Homo sapiens: one gene and its partner. The protein of the gene in region 1 purifies or fractionates together with the protein of each later gene. This does not show direct contact. Each region holds a gene or a part of one and is shown on either strand. Other genes may lie near its edges.

Region 1 (3,500 bases):
TTACAAAGGAATTTAAAGAAATTAAAGTAAATAGAACATTTTCCTCTTTTATTTGCATTGAAATAAAGTATTATTTCTTTACTCCTAGTATGTTATTGGAACTGTGATATACTTATTTAGAAAAAAAAGGTACTGAATCCTGGAATTCAAACCTAATCTTAGGTTTGAGTCCCAGAACTACCACTTATCCAATGAAATGAACAAGCATAGTTATTGTTTAAGCCTTCTCAATAAAATGGGACTGATGATACCTGAGGAGATCTCATGTATGAAAATATTTTGTCCAAAAGCAAAAGGTAAATACAATTGGTTTTTGTATTAAAAGGGCTCAATGAGCCCTCCAGTCCAGTGGCAGCTGCTTGTAGGAATTCAGACACTCAGTTGGTGAGGGCAGCTCTGGTGATGCCAAGTTGACGTGCGCCCTCCCTCTTTATTTCCTCCCTCGCCCTGCAGAGTAACCTGATCCACTACCTGGGACTGAGCCATCACCTGCTGGCACTGAATTTTATCATTGTTTCTTTTGGCAAAAAAAGCGCGTGGTCTTCTGCCCAAGTGAAGGTGACCGACACAGACTTTGATGGTGTGGAAGTCAGAGTGTTTGAAGGCCCTCCGAAGCCCGAAGAGCCACTGAAACGCAGCGTCGTTTATATCCACGGAGGAGGCTGGGCCTTGGCAAGTGCAAGTGCGTCCTGGTCACCTTCAGATGGTTTGTTGTTGTGGTTGGCCTTGGGGGAGATGCGTAACTGAGTTTGGCTTTCTTAGTGGGAAAGAAGGGGACCATTTATCTAGGTTCCCCTGGATGGTCCCAGTTACCCCTGTTGTCCCAGCAAAATTATGACTAGTGCCCCCTTTTCACTCTCAAAAGGGTCCTGGTTTGGGTGATAAATTAAATGGTTATCCTTTGTAAAGGTTTTTTGCTTGTTAGTTTGTTTGTCAATTCAGGTAGACTGTTGTAAAAATATTTCCTATGATCTAAATCACAGACTAACTTATTGTGCAGTGCTGATACAGCTTTCTGCACCAAAACAAGGTGAAGTTTCACCAGGCACGCATATGGGGAATTATCTGTGCTTCTTTTGCCAACTTGTGTTTTGAAGATATATTTCTATGAAATAGACCAGGTATTCCTTAATACACATGTTAACATTTTATCTGCTTATGAAAGCAAAGGTAAAAATATATGCAACCATTCAAAGGAAACAATCTTGCAAAGTTCAAGAATATTTTCTTTAGATTTGGATGATTTTTATGAGTAGAACACATTCAAAATGGCAGGCAGCCAAACAGAGCCGCCCAGAAGAGAACCTCCCAAGGCGGAATTCGGGGTCTTGTCTCTGCTAATAAATGATCATGGAGCTACTTCCTCATCTTCAGTCCAGAGCTTTTGGCATCCCCTTAGTTTAAAAGCAATGGCAACTTGTTTTTTTTATTTTATCATTATGTGATTTTTTTTTAAAAGCAACAAAGGTCAAAAGGTTTGACTTTTTCTAGTAATCTTATTTAATTCCATATCCGTTGTTTATTCTTTTATTCAGTGATTTTTTTTCACATTTTCAATAGCTGTTCATGAGTATGTAGGTTTGCCCGAGACCAAGGGGTTTGCTGGGCTGCAGGTCTTTCAGTGCAAAAGCTCAAACAGTTGTGGGCAAGTCTGGACCATTGGTCAGTCTAAGGTGTGCTCGGGTGTAGGGATACAAAAATGAATAAGAAGGAGTTTCTGCCTTAAAAGAGATTGAATCTGTAGCATTGGACGCTTGCCAGGAAAAACATTGTACTGGAGGACAGCAAGTATGGGTGCCAGGAATGGGATGGATTACAAGAGTCAGCCTGGCCTTTTCTGCATAATTTTGACTGATCACTTCTGCCTGAGGAAGAACTTGAGCAGGTGGAGGTAACAGGTGTCTATGTAATTCTTAAGCTTCCGATTCTAAGACTGCCTTGGAAACCCTATAAATAAGGAAATGTTTGGCTCTCAGTTGGCACAATATAGATCTTAATTTACTGAGAGTAACTAAGAATTAAATTCTTACATATTAAATTGGTTCTGTTACTGCAGACCTTTGGAATCCTCTAAGAAATGCTAAGACTTCCTAAAATTCTAGTTTTTTACGTGTTCATTTAAAGAAAATACCATATTCTTCAAATTGATCACTTTACTGAACTGCAGCAAATGAAGTGTTAAAAGAGCAAAATTGTTAAAATTATTATTTTTAGACATAAGATCTCACTCTGTCACCCAGGCCAGAGTACAGTGGCTCTATCACAGCTCATTGTAACCTCAAACTCTTGGGCTCAAGTAATCCCCCTTCCTCAGCCTCCCAAGCAACTGGGACTGCAGGCGTGCACCACTATGCCTGGCTAATTAAAAAAAATTTTTTTATAGAGGCAGCATCTGGCTATGTTGCTCAGGCTGGTCTCAAACTTCTGACCTCAAATGATCTCCTTCCTTAGCCTCCTGAAGTGCTGAGATTACAGGCATGAGCCACCACTCCCAGCCTAAAATTGCATGATTCTAAGGAAGAGACTGCTTATTTGCTGTGATTTTTTTTCCAGAAAGATGTATACATTTGAAGAGCTATAAAATCAGGATTAATTTGGTGCATTTCATATAGTCCGTTATGAAATAAATATTTAGATAGTAATATATTCAAAACTAAACTATGCATTTCCTGTTATATAGTAGTTGCATGTTATTAGAAATCAGATTTAATTTTTCATGTGTACATGTAACTCTATTATTTGTTCACATTTGCTTTTTATTATTTGTTTTTAGTATTAGCTCCAAGCCTAAAAACAATTCACACTTAGCAGAATTTATGAGTGGACAGTATTAAATGACCTGTTTTGTAATGATTGTTCCCTTTGTGTCTTTTAGAAATCAGGTATTATGATGAGCTGTGTACAGCAATGGCTGAGGAATTGAATGCTGTCATTGTTTCCATTGAGTAAGTAATTAATGCTAGTCATAGAAAATTTTTCTTATAAAGGAATTCTAGATAACAGTCTGGTTACTTTGTTTTACAAGTGATAAAGTAAAAAATAAAGGTCTCAAGTTGGCAAAGAGATATGCCCAAAGTCACACTCAGCATAATCAGAAAAATGATTTCTGATGTAACAAAATTTATTGAACTAGCTTTATAACACTTCAAATTACCTTTTCACCGTTAGTTTTGAAAACTGAAAAAAGGATTAACTAAAAACCTAGAGAAGTATGCAATCAGTTACCTGCAACATATAACTTTTTAAATCTAAAAAGTAGTAAGGATTTTAAGAGAATCTCTTCTACAGCTGAGAGTTGAAAAAGTTGCTCTCTTAGAGTCAGGTTCTATGACTTGTGCCTTGGGAACAGAAATACGTGTTCAACAAATTTTAATGGTGTGGTTAGTAGTAATAGTAGTAATATTAATATTTTGGGTTGTCTCTGTCAGTTCTGTATAAGCCACTTTTCTGGGCAACTAAGAAGAATGTGAATAATAATTATAATAATTTTGATGATAATA
Region 2 (3,500 bases), on another chromosome or scaffold:
CTTTTCTTTCTCCCCCTGATTTGGTCATATTATATTTTTTTGAAAAAGATTAATGTACTTGGTTTTCTTTCTCTCACATTGATGGTGAATTGTATTATCACTAACTTGTAGTTTGCCTCTCGCCCCCTATAAAGGTCTTATTTTAAGAAGTAACAACTTTATCTGGAAGTCCTAGCCAGCGCAATCTGGCAAGAGAAAGAAATAAAGGACATACAAATTGGAAACGAGGAAGTCAAGCTATCACTGTTTGCTAATGATATGATTGCATACCTAGAAAACCCAAAAGACTCATCCAATAGACTACTAGACTTGAAAAATCAATTCAATAAAAGTCTCAGCTTACAAAATCAATGTACACAAATCAGTAGTACTGCTACATAGCAACAACGACCAAACTGAAAATCAAATCAAGAACTCAATGACTTTTACAATGGCTGCAAAAAAAAAAAAAAAAATCCCTAGGAATATTCTTAACAGAGGTGAAAGATCTATCTATACAAGGAGGACTACAAAACACTGCTGAAAAAAATCATAGATGACACAAACAAATGGAAACACATCCCATGCTCATGGATTGGAAGAATCAATATCATGAAAATGATCATAGCGCCCAAAGCCATCTACAGATTCAGTGTGATTATTGTGAAAATACCAAAAACATTTTTCACAGAATTAGGAAAAAAAATCCAAAAGTTCATATGGAACCAAAAAAGAGCCTGAATAGCCAAAGTAATCCTAAGCAAAAAGAACAAATCTGGAGACATCACATTACCTGACTTCAAATTATACAGGGCCATACTATCAAAACAGCATGGTAATGGTCTCAGGTAGACACATAGACCACTGGAACAGAATAAAGAACCAGAAATAAAGCAAAATACTTACAACTAACTGATCTTTGACCAAGCATACAAAAATATAAATTAGGGAAAGGACACCCTATTTAATAAATGGTACTGAGAAAACTGGCAAGCCACATATAGAAGAATGAAACTGGATCCTTACTTGTCACCTTATACAAAAATCAACTCAAGATGGATTAAAGACTTAAACCTAAGATCTGAAACCATGAAAATTCTAGAAGATAACACCAGAAAAACTCTTCTAGACATTGGCTTAGGCAAAGAATTCATGACCAAGAACCCAAAAGCAAATGCAACAAAAACAAAAATAAATAAATGGGACCTAATTAAACTAAAAAGCTTCTGCACAGCGAAAGAAATAATCATCAGAGTAAACAGATAACCCACAGTGTGGGAGAAAATATTAATAACCTATGAATCTGACAAAGGACTAGTATCCAGAATCATGAGACTCAAACAAATCAGCAAGAAAAAAATTAATCCCATCAGAAAGTAGGCAAATGACATAAATAGACATTTCTCAAAAGAAGATATAGAAATGGCCAACGAACATGTTTAGAAAATGCTCAACATCACTAATCATCAAGGAAATGCAAATTAAAACCACAATGAGATACTACGTTACCCCTGTAAGAATGGCCATTATTAAAAAGTCAAAAAACAATTGGCATGGATGTGGTAAAAAGGGAACATTTATACACTGCTGGTGCAATGTAAATTAATACAGCCTCTATGGAAAACAGCATGGAGGTTTATTAAAAAACTGAAAGTAGATCTACTATTTGATCCAGAAATCCCACTACTGCTTTTTCTGTGCATATGGTGGTGTCCTTTTTGGAGTTGATAAGCATATATATATATATATATATATATACACACACACACATATATATACACACATATATGTGTATATGTATATATATTTGTGTATATATGTATATATGTGTATATATATACACAGGGGATTTGCTGGGATGGCGAACACCATGCAAAGGAAGACATGCAGGTATGATCTTTATCTTACACTAAACAGAAACTATGAAAAGGAAGCAGACAGCTGACATCCAACATGCTATCTGTTTTGCTGTTGTGATGTAACTGCTTATCAGAGTCTGAGTGCAGGGCCACATGTTTATGAGTATGAGGTCCTCTGAGAAAGAAGAAATTACCACTATCAGTCACTGTGAGAAGAGGCTGATCTTGCTTCAGCATATAACAATCAAGGAGGCTGGTTTTTAGACCACAAAGAAGAAAATATTTGGTCATACTCTAGGGTAGTCCTATTAGGGAAGACAATATGACCCCTGCCTATAGGACATTTCTTTCTAGAGCTAAGGTTGAAGATAATCCTATTAGACACCCTATGATAATGGATATAGACCTGGAGATGAGGATTCCAGAAGCAGCCACATATCTTGTAGCTCTCATTAGCTATCTTCTGCTTTTTACTTGCTAGGAGAATCTTACCATAAATTATAATTTATTTAATTTATAGATCAAGGTGTGTCTATGCTTGAGATGAAACCATAGAGACAGCAGTAGCCTGGGAAATACTGCTTCAGGAAATGCAAAAGACTAACAGCAGTAGAGTGAAAATTCAACTGTTCAGTTAGAAAACTAGATTAACTGGCTTAAGAGTGAGATTTTCAGAAATAGCGAAGGGTTTTTCAGAAATATTGAAGAGGGACAAGATAAAAGACTGAACATTTTATTGTGAGGCAGGGTGGGGGACTCCAGCCAACACAATTTAACAAAAATCTAATCTCAAAGTTTAGTGAACTCCAGGCCATACTGGTTATATCTAATACTTAAATAAATATTTTACCATCGTATATTGAAATTTCCTCATCCATGTCATCTTTCTTTGCTTTTGATAAGACCCATCTGTAAATAAAGTTGAACATACATATATGTCATTGACAATAAAAGCAGCAATTTATAGATATAAGGCATACAGAAACACAATAAAAGATCACCCAATACAGTCACTTTTCATTCAACAATAAATTCATACTTAGATGCTAAATAAGGATGCCTACACATAATCCTGAAGGGCTAGAGTTAAACCGAATTTGGAATCTATAATTTACTAGCTGTATGATCACAGGTAAGGTACAAGAAACCTCGGTTTCTCCACCTGTAAAATGGGGATTAAATATGGTAATTATCTACTTTTTTTAAGGACATCTGACACATAATAATCATTTAATATTAACTTTTGTTTTTTCCATTATTTAGAGTAGAGCAGTACTCATATTTGTCATCTGAACTTAAGAGTGTTAATCTGTCCTAGAGAATAAAGAAATGTTATAAATTTCATCTTTGCATTCGGAATTAGTATATTTTCTTTGAATAAATAACTATTCAAATTAAACATTCTATCAATTACAAAAATATACTAAGTACTGATTTACATTGTCAATTAAACTACTTTAAAATTTTTTATAGATCTGTAGTAGAGATAATTTTCATAGGCCAAAACCTAATAACTTCAAAAAAGCTAATAAATCAAAGAAAACATTCTCTTGAATGAATACTCACCCAGCCAACCTTCCACTATCAAAAGTTTCTGCAAAATATACTTCTCCTATAGGTTGAGGTGTCTTATATTTAATCTAGAAAAGAGATTTTCCAAGT

The links. The genes of interacting proteins can lie anywhere in the genome.
Region 2: the proteins of NCEH1 (region 1) and CLGN purify together in Homo sapiens (co-immunoprecipitation; 2 studies listed by BioGRID and IntAct, with this or other methods). This does not show direct contact.

Annotation. Positions count from the first base shown.
Region 1 is NC_000003.12:172,645,068-172,648,567, reverse strand, and holds part of NCEH1 (neutral cholesterol ester hydrolase 1), read left to right. Parts: intron 1-453; coding exon 454-682; coding exon of another isoform or gene 683-706; intron 707-2,875; coding exon 2,876-2,945; intron 2,946-3,500.
Region 2 is NC_000004.12:140,407,149-140,410,648, forward strand, and holds part of CLGN (calmegin precursor), read right to left. Parts: intron 3,479-3,500; coding exon 3,405-3,478; intron 2,748-3,404; coding exon 2,689-2,747; intron 1-2,688. UniProt on the Homo sapiens protein: Functions during spermatogenesis as a chaperone for a range of client proteins that are important for sperm adhesion onto the egg zona pellucida and for subsequent penetration of the zona pellucida.